Homo sapiens: one gene and its partner. The protein of the gene in region 1 interacts with the protein of each later gene in a biochemical or structural test. Each region holds a gene or a part of one and is shown on either strand. Other genes may lie near its edges.

Region 1 (7,032 bases):
GTAACATAGAGAACATTGTTGAGTTCTTACTGTGCATCAAGCACTGTGCTAAGGGTTTTTATGAAATATGTCCCGTCACACAACCACCTTTTCAATTCCATTTTAGAATTGAGAAAACGTGAGATTTTGAGAAAAAACTTCCTCCAGGTTACACACCTACTAAGTGGTGGCGATTCTCAGCCTTGGCTCTGCAGCAAAATTAACATCACTCCCGCAAATGTAATCAGCAGATGATTAAATTTTATATACAGTGTATGCCATAGATGACTTTTGATTTTTATTGATTTATTTTTTTTGAGACGGAGTCTTGCTCTTTCGCCCAGGCTGGAGTGCAGTGGCGCAGTCTCGGCTCACTGCAAGCTCCGCCTGCCAGGTTCACGCCATTCCCCTGCCTCAGTCTCCCGACTAGCTGGGACTACAGGCGCCCGTCGCTACGCCCAGCTAATTTTTTGTATTTTTAGTAGAGACGGTTTCACCGTGTTAGCCAGGATGGTCTCGATCTCCTGACCTTGTGATCCGCTCACCTCGGCCTCCCAAAGTGCTGGGATTACAGGCATGAGCCACCACGCCCGGCCATAGATGACTTTTGTAGTAAGTCTAACTTTAATTCTACAGAGCAGTTATACTTCGTTTATATCATTGTGCAGTTTTTCAAATATCCAGTCTCCTGAAATGTAGATTCGAGCTTCCTGATTCTTTATCTCCCCCATCCATTTTCCCTAGACGTGTGTCCATATTAATTAGCTGAAATTTCCCCGAATTGTTATTATCCTTGTTAAAGCCAGATTTGAGGATTTTTCGGGAAAGGGAAGTTTTGGCTTAATCAGTTTATACTAAAGATGGTGAACTTCATTTAGGATTTGGGAGACAGTTTAGGAAGTGTGACTGGAAGAACTGATTGTCTCCTGTGAGGAAATGTCCTAATTCCTAGAGTGCTAGGATGGAAAACCCGTAACACAGGCTTCTTACAGAACCTGAAGCACTGTGTTTTTCATCGGGTCTACCTTTGCTACTTAAATTCAGAACGTCTCTTGCAGATCAGCCACTCTTTTGTGTGTGTGTGTGTGTTTGTGTGTGAGGCAGAGTTTCGCTCTTGTTGCCCAGGTTGGAGTGCAGTGGCGTAATCTCGGCTCACTGCAACCTCCGCCTCCCGGGGGTTCAAGTGATTCTCCTGCTTCAGCCTCCCGAGTAGCTGGGATTCCAGGCATGCGCCACCACGCCCGGCGAATTTTTGTGTTTTTAGTAGAGACCGGGTTTCTCCATGTTGGTCAGGCTGGTCTCGAACTCCCGACCTCAGGTGATCTGCCCGCCTCAGCCTCCCAAAGTGTTGAGATTACAGGCGTGAGCCACCGCGCCCGGCCAGCAAATCAACCACTCTTAATCTGTATCTAGTCATCCCAGTTTTTATGCCTTAATTTGTATTTTTAAACAGCTTTGTTAAGATTACATTCCGGGCTGGGCGCGGTGGCTTACGCCTGTAATCCCAGCACTTTGGGAGGCCGAGACGGGCGGATCTCAAGGTCAGGAGATCGAGACCATCCTGGCTAACACGGTGAAACCCCGTCTCTACTAAAAATACAAAAAAAAAAAAAAAAAAAAAAAATGCCGAGCGTGGTGGCGGGCGCCTGTAATCCCAGCTACTACTGGGAAGGCTGAGGCAGGAGAATGGTGTGAACCCGGGAGGCGGAGCTTGCAGTGAGCCACGATCGCGCCACTGCATTCCAGCCTGGGCGACACAGCAAGACTCTGTCTCAAAAAAATAAAATAAAAGATTACATTCCATCCATAAAGTTCACCCGTTTAAAGTTTGTAGGTCAATGATTTTTTAGTATATTTACAGAGTTGTACAACCATCACAATAATTAATTGTAGAACGTTTTCATCACCCCAGAAATAAACCTCTTTACTGCCCCAGCAGCAGCCACCAGCCTCATTTCATCTCTCTAGATTTGCCTATTCTGGACATTTCATATAAAAGGTATCATACAATATGTGGGTTCTTGTGAATTTTTTTTTTCATTCATTTAGCATAATAAAAAGTTTCATCCATGTTACAACATGGTACCAGTACTTTGTTCCTTTTTATTGCCAAATAAAATTCCATAGTGTGGATAGACCACATTTTATTAGTCTGTTAATCAATTGATGGGTATTTGAGTTTCTCCTTTTGAGGTATTATGACTAAAGTTGCTGTGAATATTCATATACAGTTTTTTTGTGTGGACAAGTTTTCGTTTCCCTTGGGTATATCTAGGTGTGTAATTGCCGGGTCATATGTTCGACTTCATTTGCGTTTTAAAAAACATTTTAATTTAGTATTTAGTGATGATTTTGAAGAGCTAATAACTTATTTGATCTACATGCATTCCAATTGTTTGATGTTTCTTTTTCTTTTTTAAAATAGAGACTGGATCTCGCTTTGTTGCCTAGGCTGTTTCAAATTCCTGGCCTCAAGGGTCTCCTGCCTTGGCTTCCCAAAGTGATGGGATTACAGGCGTGAGCCACCGTGCCCCGCCTCTTTGATGTTTCTGATGAAGACTGTTTGTTTGTTTGTTTGTTTGTTTTGAAACAGGGTCTCATTCTGTCACCCAGGCTGGAGTGAGGTGGTGCAATTATGGCTCACTGCAGCCTGGACCTCCCAGGCTCAGTTAATCCTCCTGCCTCAGCCTCCTGAGTAGCTGGGACTACAGGTGTGCCCATCATGCCCGGCTAAGATTATTCTTTTCAGCTAATGATTCCTGTGTAGAAATACAAGAATGAATTCTAATTTATTATTATTTTTTAACCTGTTATGGAGGACATTACCAGTCATTCATTCACCTTTTACTGTCAAAGTGGTTAACAGGCTTATAAAACTAGAGAAGGGAAGGGTAAGGTTTCATTTTTTTAAAAAAATCATACTTTGTTGAGATTTTATTTTATTTGAACTTCAAGTTTACTACCTAATAATTCCCTTTAATAAATTCATTTTCAGCTGTAATTTTTATGTGAACTGGAAGTGTTCAGAAAACACTAAAATTCTATTTCAGAGAACTAAGTGAAGATAAAATGTATTAACTTGGAATTCACGGGTCTTTTTTCCAAGTCCAGTAATCCCTTCATTATATAGAGGAGAAAACTAAAGTCTAGAGTAATGTGGTTTTCTTCACATTAACTAGAGCTAGTTCTAGGTGAAGCCTGGTCTTCAGTCCAGATCTTTTGATAACCTCTTTGATTCCCTCCCAACTTTTCTCTGTTCCTTCCCTCTACCACACACACAGTCTCTGAACTGAAAGGTTTTTATTTTTATGTGTGTGTTTCTTTAAATTTCTTGAGTAGGCAGATTAAAAAATGTTAAAAGTAGAGGGAAATGCTGAGAAGGTTGTGCAGTATTAGGGTTTTAGACTGTTTATGAACAAAAAAGCAGTATTATGTATTTATAATCCTGCTTTTCCAGACCTTCCAGGACAGTGATGATGTTTTTGCATTTTCAGTCCAGTAAATAGAAGACTAGACATACCTGGACCCCTGAAGAAACGCTTATTTAGCATTAATTGATTCTCTATTAAGTTATGGTTCTGAGAAAGCCAAGATGCCCTAAAGTGAGCAGGTTTAATATGAAAGCTATGGTGGAATACTTGTATTTCAGTCATGAGTTTTTGTTGTGGGTTTTGTTTATTGGTTTTTCTTATAGTTTGTTAAGGCCAATGAGTCTATTTAGAAAATTACAATTCTGTTATTTGATTAACTTGACCCCAGTTGACTAGTGATGGAACCTCCTGTGATAAAGGAGGTGGAGGAAGATGAATATTAGGCCCTGGGAAACCAAGGGCCTAGTAGTTTTTTGTTGTTGTTTGTTTATTTGTTTTGAGACAGAGTTTCACTCTTGTCACCCACTGCAATGGTGCAGTCTCAGCTCACTGCAACCTCTGCCTCCTGGGTTCAAGCGATTCTCCTGTCTCAGCCTCCCAAGTAGCTGGGATTACAGGTGCCTGCCACCATGCCCGGCTAATTTTTGTATTCTTAGTAGAGACAAGGTTTCACAACGTTGGCCAGGCTGGTCTTGAACTCCTGACCTCAGGTGATCTGCCTGCCTTGGCCTCCCAAAGTGCTGGATTACAGGCATGAGCCACCGCGCCTGACTCCCCAATAGTCAATATACTCAAAATGATTAGTATAAAATGCAGCTTTGGAGTTTATGAGATAAAGTCAAAACGCATACTAGATTTCAAGCTCTAGCAAAGTTTTGAGCCAATGTAAACTGATAAAACAAACTAATCTTTAATATTCTAGTCATCCTTATGGGAAAGGATAATAGGGAAGGGGACCAAAAACATGATTTCAAGATATTCTGTGGCCTGACTTTTGGATTAAAGAAAAAAGCTAAAGGAAGGCTTATTAGGAATGCTGAATGGAATGAGTGATTAACTGAATATAATAGTGTAGTAATAATAACAGCTGACATTTACTCAGCACCTACTGTGAGCCAGGCACTGCCTCTTGGCTGCTTTTTCATTTATTATTTAATCTTCACTAAAAGTTTCCTCTCCCTTTTTAAAATTAGCTTTCTAAGGTTGAAAAAAGAATCTTTCACTAAAAATCATAGGATTGGTTTAAACAGGTGAACTTTCTGGTATGTAAGTTATGTCACCAAAGTTGTTTTAGAAAAGTACATACAAAATATCACAGATAAATCAGTAGTCTGTATTGTTAGTGGCATATGTATATGAAAGGTATAAAGCCATGCATAGAAATAACATCAACTGAGGAGTGTGGTGTTTTTGTTTTTTGTTTTCTAGAGAGTGATAGGAGGGGAAGATAAGGGGCATAACATAAGTGGTGGATACATGGGTATTTGGTACTTTTTTTTTTTATATGTCAGATATTTCTCAAATTATTTTTAAAAAGAATAATAGAATGTTACATAATATTTGAGAGCTTTACTATGTAGCAGGTGCCTTTTCTAAGGGCTTTTTACATCTTCACAAACCCTGTAAGGCAGATTCTGTTATCACTGACCTGCAGATGAAATTAAAGCACAGAGATACTAACTGGCACATAGTCACGCTGGTAGTGTGGAACCAGGATTCAGTCTTAGGAAATCTGACTTCAGAGCTTATGCTTTAAGCACTATATTACTATGCTACAGTGCCCCTTTATAAAATAAAACAAAAGTAATGGGTCACTTAAGTATTTTCACCAAAATAAGTTTCAAGGTCTTTATTTGCATTTTTGTTGAGACTATTTAGTCATTCCTCTATTATCAGGTTACTGATATATTTCTTTCCCTTTTACAGATAATGGCATCAGCTGCTAAGGAATTTAAAATGGACAACTTTTCACCTAAAGCTGGCACTAGCAAATTGCAACAGACAGTACCAGCTGATGCATCTCCTGATTCTAAGTGTCCTATATGCTTGGATAGATTTGATAATGTGTCTTACTTAGATCGCTGCTTACATAAGTTCTGTTTTCGCTGTGTACAGGAGTGGTCAAAAAACAAAGCTGAATGCCCACTATGTAAACAGCCCTTTGATTCTATTTTCCATTCTGTGAGGGCAGAAGATGACTTCAAGGAGTATGTCCTAAGGCCTTCGTATAATGGTTCTTTTGTCACCCCTGATCGACGATTTCGCTACCGTACAACTCTGACAAGGGAACGAAATGCTTCTGTGTATTCACCTAGTGGTCCTGTGAACAGAAGAACAACAACTCCACCGGATAGTGGAGTACTGTTTGAAGGGTTAGGCATTTCAACAAGACCTAGAGATGTTGAAATTCCTCAGTTTATGAGACAGATTGCAGTAAGGAGGCCAACTACGGCAGATGAAAGATCTTTGCGGAAAATTCAAGAACAAGATATTATTAATTTTAGACGAACTCTTTATCGTGCTGGTGCTCGAGTTAGAAATATTGAAGATGGTGGCCGCTACAGGGATATTTCAGCTGAATTTTTCCGTAGAAATCCAGCTTGCCTTCACAGATTAGTCCCCTGGTTAAAACGTGAACTTACAGTTCTTTTTGGAGCTCATGGATCTTTAGTGAATATTGTCCAGCATATTATCATGAGTAATGTTACTCGCTATGACTTGGAGAGTCAGGCATTTGTGTCTGATTTAAGACCATTTTTACTTAATCGAACTGAGCATTTTATACATGAATTTATCAGTTTTGCCCGATCTCCTTTTAACATGGCAGCCTTTGACCAGCATGCCAATTATGATTGCCCTGCTCCTTCATACGAAGAAGGCAGCCATTCTGATTCTTCAGTCATAACAATATCTCCAGATGAGGCTGAGACCCAAGAGCTGGATATTAATGTAGCCACTGTTAGTCAGGCACCATGGGATGATGAAACTCCAGGACCATCTTACTCAAGCTCAGAGCAGGTACACGTTACTATGTCTTCTCTTTTAAATACTTCTGACAGTTCAGATGAAGAACTTGTCACAGGAGGAGCCACGTCTCAGATACAAGGAGTACAAACCAATGACGACCTAAATAATGACAGTGATGATTCTTCAGATAATTGTGTCATTGTTGGGTTTGTTAAACCACTAGCTGAGAGGACCCCAGAACTTGTTGAACTGTCCTCTGATTCTGAGGACTTAGGTTCTTATGAGAAAATGGAGACAGTGAAGACACAAGAACAGGAGCAATCTTACAGTTCTGGTGATAGCGATGTTAGTAGATGCTCATCTCCACACTCTGTCCTTGGAAAGGATGAACAAATAAATAAAGGTCATTGTGATTCTAGTACAAGAATCAAATCAAAGAAGGAAGAGAAACGATCTACATCATTGTCATCTCCCAGAAACCTGAACTCATCTGTAAGAGGAGACAGAGTATATTCTCCATATAACCATAGACACAGAAAGAGGGGAAGATCAAGAAGTTCAGATTCACGTTCTCAGAGTAGAAGTGGGCATGATCAGAAGAATCATAGAAAGCATCATGGGAAGAAAAGAATGAAAAGTAAACGATCCAGAAGCAGGGAAAGTAGCAGACCTAGAGGGAGAAGAGACAAAAAGAGATCAAGAACTAGAGATAGCA
Region 2 (5,298 bases), on another chromosome or scaffold:
CATGGTGAAACCCCATCTCTACTGAAAAATACAAAAATTAGCCAGGCATGGTGGCTGTCTGTAATCCCAGCTAATGGGGAGGCTGAGGCACAAGAATCTCTTGAACCTGGGAGGCGGAGGTTGCAGTGAGCCGAGATCACACCACTGCACTCCATCCTGGGCAATGGAGCGAGACTCTGTCTCAAAAAATAATAAATAAGATATGATTCCTGCCTGTTTTATCCAGTTAGAGAGACACACTACACATGAAATAATTGGAGAGCATGTAAATGTTTACCTATTAGTTCAAACTTAGAAAAAGGGAAGAATATGTTTTAGTTAGCAAAGTCTTAAACAAGACTGAAGTGGCAAGCACTGTAGCTCACGTTTTCTTTTGACTCACCTTTTTCTTTAGCTCCACCTTTTGTAACTTCTAGATTTGGGGCATGAAGTTCTGCCACTAAGGCATAACCAGTACCCAAGTAGGAAAGGATTATTGATCCCTGGAGTAAAGATTCCTAGCTTGCGGGGATCTCACTATTGATCCCCCGGAGTAAAGATTCCTAGCTCGCAGGAATCTTACTTGCACACTTAGGGAAAATACCAGAGGGAGCCACTAGCAACCGAAAAATGAAGGAAAGATTTAATTTCTCTACCCAGGTACAAATCCAATGCATAGTATAGTATATGTTATATGCAGAAAGGGCACTGGAGGTGTGAGAGCCCTTTGGGTAACAGCTCTGCTAGTTGTTACCTTCACACTTCTCTTTCTTCTTAATCTCTGGTTTCTCGTCTGAAAAATGAGATAATTGGACTAGATTAATAGTTCTCAGCCTTTTCTAGAACAACAAATTAGATTATCTCTGAAGTCCTTTTCCAAAATTTCATGCTTCCAGTCTCTCCCCGTGATTGCGTATTATCCCTAGGCTAATTAAAAGTGTGCTGGTTAATCAGTTTCTTTACTTTTTTTTTCTCTCTTTTTTTTATTCTGTGTTCAGGTATCATTTGACCAACAACTTGCTCTTAATCTTACTGCGATGACTGAAATCTCCAAAGAGGAGAGTATAGTAGTTATAGGTCTAGTAATAATAATCTTGTAAACAATTCATTATTTTTTAAAACTTAATGCTGTGTGCCTAATCAGTGTTGAGTATGACTAAAATGTAAATGAGAACCAAATATGACACTAACGCTGGCACTAAATTTTATTTTTACTTGTGTACTTAAAGTACTTTACTGGCCTGTTGGGAAATTGATTTGTATAAGATTCACACCTGGTTTTGGCAGAAACAGCTTTTTAAAGATACAATTAGGCTGACTTAAAAATGTTTTTTATTCCACAGAATGTATCTTTATTATGTCATTCTTACCGTCTCTCTGCCTTTTTTGACCATCATGTAACTACGCAGTAGTAAATCATGGGGTGCAGGCTGATGAATTAGTAGTCTTTGTAAAACTAAAATGTAATGAGCATAGGAAGAGACAGCTCTTCTGGTGAACATGGCAGTTTTCCGGTAATACCAGCCTTGATGAATAGGCTAAAGACAGCTGTGTACTATGGACATTCAACTTCACTGGATTGCCTGGCTTAGCTTTTCAGTTATTGTCTTGCCGTGAAACATGGTGTTGCACTGTACACATTTTAGAATAGTGGCAAGAATGTTCTTTAGAACTGCAGATAACCCAACAGAGAATACCATACCAATATATCGGTTTCTCCTGTTACATAGAGATTTGGTATTTCAGTGATGGTTATGGTTTTTGACTCACCTGTGTGTCAGTCCTGCTAGAGAGACAGTATAGAATCAAGAATTTCTTGATGTCTTTTTAAAAATAGAGATTATAATGGCCTTGCTAGTTGTCCTGTGAAGTGACAGACCCTTAATTAGAAATCTTTTAATCCTGCTTTCCATTTTACTTCTCCACCATTTATTTTTAACATTCATTCTCTGAAAATAGTTATGATTTTTAGTGTAATTGGCTATGTTTAAGAAATTCCATTTCAAAGTCTTAATATGTAACAATCTTCATTTTTTATAAAATTGAAGGACATTTTTGAGGCAAACTTACTTTTATAGCTCATTTTCTCCCTAGTTAAGGAGAATTCTCTGGTTTCATATAGAGAATGGCTAGCTCTGTGATACCCCACCCTCTTTGTGGCCTACCAGTTGCTGTTGTGTTGCTTAAAATTGCAGATATTCTCATAAACATGATGATTTTTGGCACAGGCCTTTCTTTGCTATTGATTTCAAAATAAAGTTGGGCAATCCAATTTGAACTACTTTAATAAACATAATTTAGCATTCCTGTAATGAGAAAGTATTTTCAAAAGATAACCAGATTTATTTCTAGGATTAGAGATGGCAAATACCAATGATAGTATTTTTCCCAAGAGCAATCACAGATTAATCTATAAATATGAGAAGTCGCATTATTGTACTTAATTCTTTGGCAACAAACAGCAAGTTTTTATTGTTTAATTGTATTTCCTCTCTAGAGATCACAATACTCTGGGTATTTTATATCCCTTCTAAAGGTCATTTGGGTTTTCAAATGGGAAGAATAGTCAAGCTAAGCTGGACTAAACCTAAGTAATATTTTTTCTCATCAAAAGAAGTTATTAATCTAACTGGGTTAGCATGAGTCATTCATTTTTTAGACATGATAAATGGGAAACATATCAAATCATTAGATAAATTCTGACCTGGAATTGAATTCCCCCTTTCTTAAAATCTTTTTAATTTGCTTTTTTCATAGACTCAGTATGGAACTCTTAACTGATAAGGGAGAGATTCTTGATCTGGAACCGTTCCCTGCCATTCTCCTTTTTTCTCTCTATCTAGGTAGCTGGTTCCATAGTGCCCGTCACGAGGGTCCATTTCAGTTTGATGACATTAGACTGCTTACACTCAGCTGGATGCCTTGCTGTTTGCAGCAACATGATTTTACAGTATGCTTTTCTCAAAGCTTTGCATTCTTAATGGAGATATCAAATGGTGTAATTCCAAATATAAATATGTTTATGACACTAATCATATGCTTTTAACAATAACTTTTTGATAACTTATTGCCCTGTAAGTTAAACCTTACACGGAGTGACTGTTGCCATCAGAAAATCCCCTTTCACCTGCTAGAGAGAGTGAAAGTAGTGCGTGGCCTCCACTTTTCAGTTAACGAGTAGCAAGCTTCTAGTAGGGGCTGCTTATCTGACCCATGTGGGGTCTTGGGCCTTGTTACTTTCCTGGGTTCGTCCCTTCAGCTGGAAAGGCTGTTGAAAACACTTGCCAGGAAACAGTAAAGCTGTGAGAGAATCTTCTAGTCTTAGATATAGAGAAATGAGTACCAGTTGATGCTAACACGATACTTAGACTTTGAGGGGCTTCCATCCAAGCTTTGGCATGAATCTGTTAGACACGGTTTTCTTCACTCCTCTGATAATCTTTTTTTCCAGAATGGTTTTTTGTTGTTGTTGTTGTTAACAAATTCTAAACATCCAGTGTTACTTTTTGTTTTGTTTGTTTTGTTTTGTTTTGTTTTGTTTTGTTTGCCCTTCAGGAAAGTCCTTTTTCGAGTAGGTATTGATTGTTCCCTGGAAACTCTCAGCAGTGTCTGTGCAGGCTCTGTGCATGCTTTGTATGAGTTCGGCTTGAACAATGCATTTGAAGTCACCTGGGATGTCCAGTTCTGGCATGTCTTCATTGATTGTGTTTTTAAACATGTTTCATGTTTCATGTCATTTTCCAAACCTCACTTTACATCTTACTCAGAGAAGTTAATCAAGGAATGAAATTTCTAGGGGGATAGGGATGATGAGGGTGGGTTGGGGGCTTGAGTGAAGTCAACTTGGGGTATTTGCTTTAAAGTGTTTTCTAAAGCAGTTCCTAACAGTATTTAGAGATTCCCTGGGATGTTTGTGGCTCAACTTATTCTGGACAAAGTGTGTGTGGGGGTGGTCTTACTGAGATTTGCATTCTTAATGCAGGACAGGCTCTAAATTTCATCTGTACTCTAAATTTGTGATTGAATCCAAGAAGATAACAGAGACAGTGCTCCTGTTGTAATGTTTCTGGCAAGTGCTCCCTAAAATGCACATCGAATTCTGTTTTCTGGGCCTTTTCTCCAATGGTGCTAGGAGATACCGTTGATTTCTGCAGCTCTTCTCAGTGGTGGGAAGAAGTCTTTGGGATTGTTGAGCAAGGGGCAGCTGGACCATCCACTAAATTTTTTTGTTCAAGACACATTAGAGACCCTCCTGTATATCTAGTAAGTCATAATAAAGGTGCTTGGGAAAGCCTTAAATTTGAAGACACATGGAGGCGGTAGAAAATTAAACTTGTAAGAGGAGAAAAACATGCCATTAGGTAACGCAGAGTTGTAACTACTGGCTAAGACTCAATGGAACTTCCACTTGCTCTAAAACCAGGGAAATCTTAGATAACTGGGTGTGATCTACCTATAGATCTACCTAGTCTATAGGTAATAATTTCCAGAAGGAGGATCTTGCTGTCAGTTGGGGATCCTCTGGTTTGGTCTGTACCAAATTGTGAATACTCTTGCTGTGTTGTACCCAGTTGCTTTATATTAATACTGCAACTTGAAACGGGGAGGGTGGGGGGACAATGGGGTGGGGGAGGGAAGGGAGTGGGACGATAAGTCTTTTGAAGACATCAGCTCACTGTGCTGAGAGAGGGACCAAACTCAAGGAAACCTCTGATCTATACATTCAACTGCTGCATTTTTTTATAAATACATGTAAATGTCCTGTTGTAATATTTGATCTTGGAAATAAAAACAAAAACTTTTCAGTATTAGTTTTTTTTGTGTTGTTGTTTTTACAAGATAAGACTCTGGATATTACTTTCAGTAATACAATTGAGATTCCAAAAGCTTGCCCCCTCACGTTCTCATTTAGGTCAGTTACTATTGATTGACAAAGGTTACTTTGTAGTCCCGTTGTTATGTGTAACGTTTGCTAGCCTTTTTTCTGCTCTTTGTGGTATGTCAAACATTCATGGTAAACACTCTGTAAATATTAGTCCAGTTGTTACAGAAACATTGGGTAAGCTAGGCTTGTTAGGTAAGTATGATTCTGTGTTTGACATACTTGGGCGAATATTCAGTGTCTGTTCTTTCAGACCAGCAGTAATTACTAATGGTTAATTAAGGACTTAGCTTAATTGAAGGAAAGATAATTACTAAATTAATGGGCAAAAAGGAGATACGATTATATGGTATGACAGAAATTGTTATTGCTGCTGGATGCAGTGGCTCATGCATGTAATCCCAGCCCTTTGGGAGGCTGAGATGGGCGGATCACCT

The links. Proteins that work in one complex are often made in the same cells at the same time.
Region 2: the proteins of TOPORS (region 1) and UBXN7 form a complex in vitro, tested with the Homo sapiens proteins (one study listed by BioGRID).

The regions. Positions count from the first base shown.
Region 1 is NC_000009.12:32,542,571-32,549,602, reverse strand, and holds part of TOPORS (E3 ubiquitin-protein ligase Topors), read left to right. Parts: intron 1-5,276; coding exon 5,277-7,032. UniProt on the Homo sapiens protein: Functions as an E3 ubiquitin-protein ligase and as an E3 SUMO1-protein ligase. Probable tumor suppressor involved in cell growth, cell proliferation and apoptosis that regulates p53/TP53 stability through ubiquitin-dependent degradation.
Region 2 is NC_000003.12:196,347,151-196,352,448, reverse strand, and holds the end of UBXN7 (UBX domain-containing protein 7), read left to right. Parts: 3' UTR 1-4,787; downstream 4,788-5,298. UniProt on the Homo sapiens protein: Ubiquitin-binding adapter that links a subset of NEDD8-associated cullin ring ligases (CRLs) to the segregase VCP/p97, to regulate turnover of their ubiquitination substrates.